Homo sapiens: one gene and its partner. The protein of the gene in region 1 purifies or fractionates together with the protein of each later gene. This does not show direct contact. Each region holds a gene or a part of one and is shown on either strand. Other genes may lie near its edges. The genes, in order: POLR1F and RRN3.

What was found.
Region 2: the proteins of POLR1F (region 1) and RRN3 purify together in Homo sapiens (affinity purification with mass spectrometry; 3 studies listed by BioGRID and IntAct, with this or other methods). This does not show direct contact.

Annotation. Positions count from the first base shown.
Region 1 is NC_000007.14:19,694,961-19,699,334, reverse strand, and holds the end of POLR1F (DNA-directed RNA polymerase I subunit RPA43), read left to right. Parts: intron 1-607; coding exon 608-1,019; 3' UTR 1,020-3,874; downstream 3,875-4,374. UniProt on the Homo sapiens protein: Component of RNA polymerase I (Pol I), a DNA-dependent RNA polymerase which synthesizes ribosomal RNA precursors using the four ribonucleoside triphosphates as substrates.
Region 2 is NC_000016.10:15,063,210-15,070,506, reverse strand, and holds part of RRN3 (RNA polymerase I-specific transcription initiation factor RRN3), read left to right. Parts: intron 1-252; coding exon 253-437; intron 438-2,229; coding exon 2,230-2,338; intron 2,339-5,135; coding exon 5,136-5,288; intron 5,289-7,223; coding exon 7,224-7,297. UniProt on the Homo sapiens protein: Required for efficient transcription initiation by RNA polymerase I (Pol I). Required for the formation of the competent pre-initiation complex (PIC).

The DNA of each region.
Region 1 (4,374 bases):
TAGTGCTACTGTATAAGACTGAAGTTCTGGAGAGAAAGCTACTTCATCGATCCATGTTTTATTTTAGTGGTGTAAAATAATTCACAATGTTAAAGTAATACTATCTTAGTATCAGCTAAGTAGAACAATGGACTATTATTTGAAACAAGATTAAAATAGTAGACTGGAAACTCCATTGCTTTGATAAATACCAGATCATATTTTCTATTAGATGTCAGTGGTTTGGTTAATAAGCCTAGGTATTGTGGTGTTTAATGTTCAGTGACCAAATTTTTCTGAAACAACCCAAAACTTGGAAGACATGTTTTGACAAGATTTTTATGTCATTTTTATGTGTGGAAACAGTCTGGGAGAAGTTATTCATAAAGAAAGAATTTAACATTTAATGTTAAATTTAACATTTTTCAATTTAACATTCAGCAGCCCATACATATTTTAGTGGGTTGAGGGATAACAGGATAGAATATTTGGAATTTATGCCATGGTTATGTGTCTTGTACTGGAGTCATTATTTAGAAAATCTTAGCCTGTTGGGATATCTTGATCTCAATTTGTTCTTTGTTTTTTGCTTATTGTTCTGTTAATTTTTTTAACTGTTAATTTATAGTTTACAATTCAAGCGCTCTGAAGTTTCTGAAGAAGTTACAGAAAATGGCACTGAGGAAGCTGCTAAAAAACCTAAAAAGAAGAAAAAGAAGAAAGACCCAGAGACATATGAAGTGGACAGTGGTACCACAAAGCTAGCAGATGATGCAGATGACACTCCAATGGAAGAGTCAGCCCTGCAGAATACTAATAATGCGAATGGCATCTGGGAGGAGGAGCCAAAGAAAAAGAAGAAGAAGAAAAAGCACCAGGAAGTTCAGGACCAGGACCCTGTTTTCCAAGGCAGTGACTCCAGTGGTTACCAAAGTGACCATAAAAAGAAAAAAAAGAAAAGAAAACACAGTGAAGAGGCCGAATTTACCCCACCTTTGAAATGCTCACCAAAAAGAAAAGGGAAAAGTAATTTTCTTTAGTGTATTTTAAACACGATTCAGTTTTTAAAAGATCGATCTACATACAATAGATGAATAAATGTTTTCAGTGATATGAAAAGGTTAAGTATGCCAGTAGTTTACAAAACAGAAAATACTTAACTAGGAGTAGGAGGCTTTATATGCTAAAAATGATAAAACTGACTGTAAATTAATTTGGGGAAAGCCAGTATTGTTAAAATACCATTTTATACAAAATAAAAAGCTGCTCTCACTGTCAGCTCTCATATTCTTCCAGGTTTTGCACTCTACATAAAATTATTTCTACAATGTCAAGACTAGCCAAAGGACTTTATAATACAATATTATATTACTAAAGAATGAGTTAAGTTTGAGATTTTGATGATTTGATTTTGTGTGTGTTTAATAGGCTTCACCTTATTACATGCTATTTTATTTTGCTTTTTTAAAAACTCAGGACATTAACTAATTTTAGGTTTTCCTTTATCATGGCTTTCTACAGTATTTCTATTGTTTAACATAAAATAGTTTGCCAAAGAAGTTTCTGAAGTCTTCACAGCTCTTAAAAGCCAGGCCAGTACTGACTGTGTGGTGGTAAATGCTATTCATTATTTTCTTTTCTTTCTTCCAAGTGCATGTGTGTCCTTGTCTTCTTAAGTCTGAGAGGTTGCTGGAAAGGACTGTTTTCTTGTACTTGTTCATTTGTGCCTCAGCCATTCTAGTTTTGTTGTGTGTTGGAGGACAGTCTAATGAAGACAGGATAAATGTGATTCTGACTAGTGGGAAATTTCAGATTACTTTTTAATGATTGGAATGGGCTATAAGATATTGTGCTGAAGAGAAAACAGTTGTTCTGTTCACTGCTTTCATTGAGAAAATGTGGAATGTCTCTTGACTAATTGACAAAGTGTAATGAAATGACAAGCTGGTTGAAGCTGGTAATCAATGCATGGCCATATTTATTCATTTTCCACACACTTGACCATCTACTTTGTATAACACATTCTGCTAAGGCCCAGGGATACAATGGCAAACAAGATAGATGTAGTTCCTTCCCTTGTGGCATGTCATAAGAGAAACAGATGTGCATATACACACAATAAATAAGAAAATTAATAATTGTATTAAGTGGTATGAAAAAAAGGGGGAGGATTGTTCACTCACTGTTACCTGTGTTAGTATCTGCAAATGCATGAATGGTTGAACTCCCATGTCAGCATTTTTGTTGCCATTTATTTAGTACCAGACATAGTGCTGGTCTCACAGCTTAATATTTGGTAATGAATAAATTCTGCTAGTGGTATATGTTGATCTGAACTTACAATGATGGGATATAGAATTGGCAGAGTGGCAGATGTTCACAATTGTCTACAAGTAGATGTGCTAGACAATGGAAGGATGCAGGCCAACCTCTTTGATTACAATTGAGATTCATGTGACTATTGAGCCCTGGAAATGTAGCTTGTCCAAATTGAGATGTGCTGTCAGTATAAAATACATACCAGATTTTAAAGATGTACCAAAAAATGTAAACTATCTCAATTTTTATATTGGTGAAATCAATATGTCTTGGTATAGTGGCTTAAATAAAACAATTTTAGCCTTTCTCAGTTTATTTTTCTGCAAAAAGATTAAAAATTGTACATGAAGCTCATGTTAACTTTCTTTTGGTCAGTGCTATTTTAAAGGAAGTATGAGTTGAAAAAAAATTGAAATAAACTATATCATATTACTAGGACTTAATATAGTGGCATACCCAGGAAATGCTTAGTAAGTGTTCCCTTCACATTTTAAAATTTGAGTATACAATCATGTTTGACAATATAGAAATTTAATTTTTAGTGAAACAATTCTAAACCCCTTTTCCATAGACACAAGAAAGATGGCAAATTTATGCTATTCCTGGAAAAATACATTGTGGCTTAGCAAATAAGCAAGTTCCCACGTTACTTTTGTTTTGCTTCAAGTAATACTTCTGCCAGTTGTGTTTTATGAATTAAACAGGGAACGGCATGCTGAACTTGAAACTAGATTTGTTCCTGCTTTTTTCACAATGTGAGTAGTTTTGAAAAGTCAGATCTGGCCATTTGTCTTTCCTAGAATAGCATAACTTTGTTCATTGTTTTTTTTGTTTGTCTTTCTGACACAGAAAGACTGATGATGGTGTCCACTATGTATTCTTCAAAACATTTGGCACATGCTGCACTAACCTAGTCTATCTTTTCTATCTTGGAATTTGCTCATACAAACCCTATAGCCTAGACTAGATCCCTTACCCTCTCTCCAGTTCCTATCATTCACCCATTTCACTGTGCAAGACACCTCACTAGTCACCAGTGATACAGAAATGACTTTTAAGCAGTTTCTGCTCTTAAGGGCTTACCGTTTTGTCTATAAGATACACAAGTATAAATGACAAGTACAAATAACAATGAATGTTTAATGCTTTACGTTTAGTGTTTAAGCTTGTTGTTGGAAGAGCAGCATTTTGACCCTTGGAGAAGAAAAACTAGCTGTGGCATTCCAGGTGGAGAACCTGACAGAGGACTAAGAAGTTATCTAATGTAAAAGACCTCAGGCACCACCTTCGCATAAACTTTTTCCAGACAAGGCTAAATGTGCATGCTTCATAACCATAATTCTTATTTTTCTTTAATAAATATTTTTCTACTTGTAACACTGTGCATTATTTCAAACTGTTTACCTGTTTGTAAAGCTTGTCTCTTAATCAAATTTGTCTTGACCAAATAAGTTTCCTGAGGGCTGGAATTATGCCTTAACTATATCTATAGTATTTAACAGTGAATCCTTTGTATAATGAAAGCATCAACAGATAATTTTAAATTGATAAATAAAAAGCACAGTTTCAAATGGTATCACTTGGCCTCTGATGTGATATTATTATTTTCACTTGTTTCAATAAATGCATCTTTTTTTTTTTTTTTGGCCTATATGTAATGTGGTTTTTAAGCACTTTTATCACTTTAGTGTGTCAGGGATAGAATACTTAAAAATGACAGAAATTTGATCTCTTTTAATTTGTTTTATACATTCACCACATGGGTCATCTTTGCCTTTTTTTCTCAAAAAGTAGATATTTTGTTACAAAATCAATATATATTTGTTTAAAAATTCATATAGTAAAAGTATATACATCTTCCCACTCTACCAGTCATTGATCTCCCTCCCTATTCCTCCCCACACCACACACACCCACTTGGCAATTCTGCTTCCAGAAATAACCACTATTGTCAATTCCATGTGTAGTTTTAGAGATTTTTAAGTAGTGAATTTTAAAATGTTTTAAGACATGGAATCAAACTACCTGCACTTTTTGGGTCTACTCTATTTTATAGTAAATGTCTTCCCATATGAA
Region 2 (7,297 bases), on another chromosome or scaffold:
TTGGGACGTTCTTAGGGGCTCACCTGTTCCTAGAAGGTCAGAGCTACTCTGCCTTGTAATTGGAAGGTTGTCTTCCTACGCACCCATCCTTATCCTTCCTTTCTTTGCTTTTCCTCTGTACCCATGGGTATTATTTAAAGAAACCTATGAACTTACTTAGCATGGTTTGTAATGAAAGGCAGTTGTGTGTTTTTATGTTATTCTGGTTTTTTTATGATGTGTAAAGTTGACTTGAATTTTTCTTTTCTCTAGTACTGTAAAATCATGCCTAGATCTTTTGGTTAACTGGCTGCACATATACCTTAATAACCAGGATTCGGGAACAAAGGCATTCTGCGATGTTGCTCTCCATGGACCATTTTACTCAGCCTGCCAAGCTGTGTTCTACACCTTTGTTTTTAGACACAAGCAGCTTTTGAGCGGAAACCTGAAAGAAGGTCAGTGTTGTGGGAGTGCTGGACTGGATTTTCCTTGTGTTCTTGTCACCCTTCAGAATGGTGATTCATTACTTTTTTGAGATTTTTATAAAAACTGGATTCAGAAAACTGCATGTGCACTCAAACTTTTAATAATAATTTCAAGCAGCTCATAGGCCCCTACAAACCCCTTAAGATAGATTTGAGCTTGAGAACCCTACAAACCCCTTAAGATGGATTTGAGGTTAAGAAAGAGGTTTCTGCCTTTGAAAGTTTGAAATGTGAAGATGTCTCCAGAGGTGAGGCTGAGCCCTGGGCTGTGCCAGCGCCCTGTACAAAGCTTCAGTTGGATGCACCTTCTCTTTGTTGTCCTTGTAACAGCCCAGTAAATGGCAGGTATTCTCCCTTTACAGACAGCACTAAAGCACAGGAAAGTCATTTTCCCAAGATCACATGGTTAGTGGCAGGATTAGAAAACTGAAGCCAGGTTTGGCTGACCCTAAAGTTTGAGTTTATATAGATTAAACTCTGCCTGAAGCCTTGAGACTTAATTGACCAGTATTGTTTTGCTAATTTCTAAGAGTTACTTATAATTCAAATCTGTCAGTTGAAACTTATTAGATTAGTGTATTTTAGTTGAAGAGAGTCTCCAAGAACAGTGTTTATAAGTCATTGTAAATTGTTCTGTTTATGTTTATGAATAATTCTTATGGTTTTGTGGGTCACTTCCTCTAAACCGGGGTCTCTGAACCCTGCACGATTGCCATTTGGGCTGCATCATCCTTCATCGTCGGGGGCTGTCCTCTGCACTGTAGGATGTTTAACAGCCTCCACCTACTAGCTGCCAACAGCAGTCCCCGACCACCCCCAGCTGTGACAACTAAAAGTGTCTCCAGATACTGCCAGGTGTCCTCTGCGGGGGTCGCAGTCTCCTTGGGTTAACAGCCACAGCTCTAAACTGAAAGTTGTATGTGTTGCATTATATATGTTTACCTACATCCTACATGCTTCTAAAAGATGTTGTATGAACTAGTAGGATGAGGTTTTATCACAAGGTAAGTAAATACAAGCTCTGCTTTTCTTTGTATAAATTAATGCCAGGAATCTGGATTAAATATCTTGTTTTTGTAAGCTGTGACATCCCATTTAGGTAATTTTTATTGAAATACGTATCAAAGAAACTCCTAAGAAAATATACTTAAGTACAAGTTGGTCAGCTTGCCTCTTAAAATAAATGTGATGTCTTTATTTTACTCATGTAGAAAAGAATTATATTCATTAAGTCTAAGAAAGTGGTTTCTGTCTAAATTTGCCGTCCGTTGAGGTAGAAGGCAAATTTGGAGTTTTCTTGTTTAGAAAAAAAACTACAGATGACTACTGTGCACCTGAAAACAGCACTCAGCTTCACTAACAAGACATGCAAGCTAGAATCAAATTGCTGTTTTGTTTTGTTGCCTGTCATGATTGTTAGCTGAAACCAAATCACAAGGTCTTTTCTCCCTCTGTATTATCTCAGCATACACTGAGCTTGCAAACATATGAATTTCACATTGTCGTGGAATCTTACAGCCTGCTACTTCCTAAGTTTTCTTTAGAGAAGCTGCCTTGGTGACCAATGAATGTGGTTAGCCTAGTGATACTCTTCTGGGCCATATACTGTGTGACTATCTGCATGGACCTTTATTTAAAGCATTTCTGCAAATAATTTTTTAAAGTTTTTTTTAAATGTGTGATAATTTGTGCTTTTAAAAGTATCTTACACTTTTCACTTATTTGTACCTTTAAAAAAATCTTTTTTTTTTTTAAACCAAAGGTTTGCAGTATCTTCAGAGTCTGAATTTTGAGCGGATAGTGATGAGCCAGCTAAATCCCCTGAAGATTTGCCTGCCCTCAGTGGTTAACTTTTTTGCTGCAATCACAAAGTAAGTTATTTACGCTTTCTTGATGGGAGTTATTTAAAATATTTTTATTTATGTTTATCTAGTATTGTAAGAGTGTTAAATTTCTATGAAATTAGTAACATTATAAAAGGCCAGGCGTGGTGGCTGACACCTGTAATCTCAACATTTTGGGAGGCTGAGGTGGGAGGATTGCTTGAGGCCAGGAGTTAAAAGACCAGCCTGAGCAACATAGTGAGACCCTATCTCTACAAAAAAATTTTAAAAATTAGCTGGGTGTGGTTGCCTGTGCCTGTAGTCCCAACTACTCAGGAGGCTGAGGTAGGAGGATCACTTGAGCCCAGGAAGTCAAGGATGCAGTGAGCCCTGATTGTACCACTGCACTCCAGTCTGGGCTCCAGAATGAGACCCTGTCTCTTAAACAAACAAAAACAACCCAGTCCTTGCAGGAAATACTGTGATACAGCTATTGTTTTTATACTTTGATGGCGTTGGAAATTACTACTACTTCTTATCCAAAGGGCAGCACTTTGAAATAAGTATGGCAACCAGTAAGCTGAGAGGGGCAAAGCCATAGATGCTTATTAGAGTGACTCCTGTAATAGTAATAGAAATAAACTGGACATGAGGCAAATGTTGACCTGTAAGAGATTGGTTTAGAGAGTTCTGTTCTCTCAGGTCTGGTAGCTATGGCTAATCCATAGCCTTTCCTCTGTGCCAGGCAGTTCTAAGCACTTTACATAGAACTCATTTGATCCTCTAGGATGAAACCCTGTTTATCAACAGGGAGGTGGAGGTACAGAGAGGTGAAATCACTTGCCTAAAGTCATAGAGCTAGACTGGCAGCACAGATTTAAATGTAGTCTGGCTCCTTTGTAAGCTTTCACTAAGTTATTCTGCTTTATGGAGAAAGCGAATTGGAGAATTGAATATTCAATGAGGATATTTAGGCCGGATCATAGCTTAAAATCTTCAACAGATAAGAGCCAACAGCTTGCTGAGCTCCGTCAGCCTCTTTAGTTCTCCTTTGCTAGGCGTCTGGTTCAAGGTGTCCTCTCTTCTGAGTCTCAGTGATAGTAAAGGATTAGGAAAAGGCATAAAGAGACCAATAAGCAACGGCAGTGAGTGGGTGGAGGCTTCAGCACGTTGGTTAAGATGGTGAGCAGCTCAAAGAGTGAGGATGGATGAAGCAAAGCAGAGGCCGCTGCCCCTGGTATGTTCTCGGGGTGGGGACAGAGGACTGCATTTGTGAACCATCTGGTCCAGGGGCTCTCGATTTGGGGTTGGCATGCGCATTGGAGGCACAGAGTGTGATGCGATGTGAGGCTAAGAGCAGGGGATTGAAATAAAAGTCTCTGCCTAGGTACAGATATGGTAAATAAAGGCGTGTACCATTCTGTAGCTGTTGCTTTTGCCTGCTTGATGCTTTTGAGATTGAACCATATTGACACAAAGCTTTATTTTGATTTTAACTGCTGTGTTATGTTCTGGGAATCTTTTTTATTGAGTCTTTGTTGGGATTTCATCTGTTAGTTTTTGTCTTTTTTTTTTTTTTTATTTGAGACAAGGTCTTGCTCTGTCACCCAGGCTGGAGTACAGTGGCGTGATCTTAGCTCACTACAACCACCACCTCCGAGGCTCATGCAGTTCTCCTGCCTCAGCCTCCCGAATAGCTGGGACTACAGGCGCCTGCCACCACGCCCAGCTAATTTTTGTATTTTTAGTAGAGATGGGGTTTCATCATGTTGACCAGGCTGGTCTCAAACTCCTGAGCTCAAGTGAACCGCCTGCCTCAACCTCCCAAAGTGCTGGGATTACAGGTGTGAGCCACCGTGCCCAGCCGGCTGTGTTAGTGTTTTAGTGCTCAGGAACATTCTTGTGTGTGGGCACATGCTTCCTTGTCACACACCCGGAAGTGCGGTCAGCTGCGGGGTTGTAGGAGATGCAGATCTTCAACTTTACCTGATAGTGCAAACCACCCTCCAGTGTGGTTTTGCTGATGTGTCCTCCACCAGGAGGAGGGGTCAAGTGCTGTGAGCCTTGGCTAACAGGACAGAAATCAAAGTATGTGGCTTGAAGTTGCCATGGTGACCTGAGAACCTGAGATGGAGAGTGACAGAAGTGAGATCTGAGTCCTCATCTTGGAGAAGCTGTCCAATAGATAATTTTTCAAGTTGCTCAATCATTTAGAGACAACTACTGGAAAAATTAAAAACATAATTGTCTTTATTTTATGTTTTCTTCTATGCATTTAACTGTTCTCACTCGGCATGCCTAGTCCTTTCTGTGCCTGTTTTTGAGGTCATGACTTAGTCAACCCCGTGTCCCTCCTTCAGTAAAGGCTTATTTCTTTTTCAGTGCTTCTTCAGCAAGTCTCTTCACCAACCACTATTTCCTCCTGAGTAACTCCTGAATCCCTTTACCACCAACCTTCTAATTCTTTTGCAAACAGTAAAAATAAAGACACCTATAGTTACGTAATCTAAGAGTTTTGCCTTGCAAACATTTATTTTTAATGAATAGTATCTATTACTCATTAAAATATAATGAATAATATCTATTACTCATTAAAATATAAGCCCAGTTTCACATTCTGAGTGATAGCCACGTTTTCTTTCTCCTTAGCAAACTTGCAAATAGAAGACCCATAGAACGGTACCCTAAAAGTGTTACTTTCTGCTTTATATTGTTATTTTTACTAGCACTTGTTATATTCAGCAATTTCTCTGTGGTAGGTACAGTTGTCACACGCAGCTCACATCTGCACCGAGTCACTCCAGCATGTTAATGCCTCTGTCTGTGTTGTTTTTTTGTTCCACAGTAAGTACCAGCTCGTCTTCTGCTACACCATCATTGAGAGGAACAATCGCCAGATGCTGCCAGTCATTAGGAGTACCGCTGGAGGAGACTCAGTGCAGATCTGCACAAACCCGCTGGACACCTTCTTCCCCTTTGATCCCTGTGTGCTGAAGAGGTAGGTACTTTTAAACATTGACGCTGGAGGAGGTGGATTTTTTTTTTTTTTTTGAGACGGAGTCTCACTCTGTCGCCCAGGCTGGAGTGCGGTGGTGTGATCTCGGCTTACCGCAAGCTCCGCCTCCCGGGTTCACACCATTCTCCTGACTCAGCCTCCCGAGTAGCTGGGACTACAGGCACCCACTGCCACGCCTGGCTAATTTTTTGTATTTTTAGTAGAGACGGGGTTTGACTGTGTTAGCCGGGATGTTCTCGATCTCCTGACCTCGTGATCCGCCCGCCTCGGCCTCCCAAAGTGCTGGGATTACAGGCGTGAGCCACCGCGCCCGGCCAGGAGGTGGATTTAAACGTGATACATGTTTGCTTTTCCCAAAATTGGGATTTAGGGCTCTTCACCAGAAGTGGCCCTTCCTCGCTGTTGATGAGCATCTCGTGGTCTCCCTGCGTATATTTCACCAGATGCAAAGTAGAGGATGCCTAGCAGGACTTGCCGAGTGGCGCAGGCACCCCAGAGTGGGTAGATCTTTGCCTCACTAGGAGCCAGACTGACATCAAGGGTTTTTTGTTTTTTGTTTTTCTTTAAACTGTTATTTAAACATGTAAGGTTAATGGGGATAATGGTGCCAGGATAGGGGAGGGTGCTGTCTTTTCTTGCTTCATAATTTTCTGCCAAGTGTCTTGTTCCTTCCTCTAGAGACCACATACCATTCTGTTGCACAGGATAAACGAAAAACAAACGATTGGCTGGGCGTAATGGCTCATGCCTGTAATCCCAGCACTTTGGGAGGCTGAGGCGGGCGGATCACTTGAAGTCAGGAGTTCAAGACCAGCCTAGCCAAGATGGTGAAACGCTGTCTTTACTAAAAATACAAAAATTAGCTGGGTGTGGTGGTGGCGCCTGTAATTCCAGCTACTCGGGAGGCTGAGGCAGGAGAATCTCTTGAACCCGGGAGGTGGAGGTTGCAGTGAGCCGAGATTGCACCAATGCACTCCAGCCTGGGCGAGAGAGTGAGACTCTGTCTCAGAAAAACAAAACAAAAAAAAAACAAAAAGCGATTTATCTAGATGAGTTGTTCTAGAAAACCACTGGGCCAGCCTTAACTTGGCACTTGTATAAGGAAGCAGGATTTTTGCTTATTATGGTTTCTAAAATAACTAGCAGCATCATGACCATCTGGGATTGTCTGGTCCCTGAAGTCTTGGTTGACTGAAACCAGATTAGTTGTTTTTCCTAGACTTACTTTTCAGCAAATTACTACAGAAATATAAAAAAGAGAGTTCCAGAATATTACGGTTTCATTTCCATTTGGATATACTGTATCTAACTGACTTGTGAGTCTTTGTAAAGTTTAGAAACAATTTCACATGAAAATGGAAAGATGAAAAACGGTAGTTCAATACTCCATCGACATGAGTGAATGAACTCTTATACAGAAAGAGCCACATTAGTTACAGCATTTACATAGAGGGTTGTTTTTTTGTTTTGTTTTTTTCTTTTTTTTTTTTTTTTTTGAGACAGAGTCTTGCTCTGTCTCCCAGGCTGGAGTGCAGTGGCGCGATCTCGGCTCGCTGCAAGCTCCGTCTCCCAGGTTCAGGCCATTCTGCCTCAGCCTCCCGAGTAGCTGGGACTACAGGTGTCCGCCACCACACCCGGCTAATTTTTTGTATTTTTAGTAGAGATGGGGTTTCACCGTGTTAGCCAGGATGGTCTCGATCTCCTGACCTCATGATCTGCCCACCTCAGCCTCCCAAAGTGCTGGGATTACAGGCGTGAGCCACTGCACCCAGCCAGGTTTTTTTTAAATGTAATTATTTAAGCTGTAGTTTTCACTTCTTGGTTTTGGGTAATAGATCTTGTGAGAAAAGATCCAAACCAATTTTGACTTCTGCCGAAGTATTTAACTTGACTTTGAAATGTGATCTTTGTTGACAGGTCAAAGAAATTCATTGATCCTATTTATCAGGTGTGGGAAGACATGAGTGCTGAAGAGCTACAGGAGTTCAAGA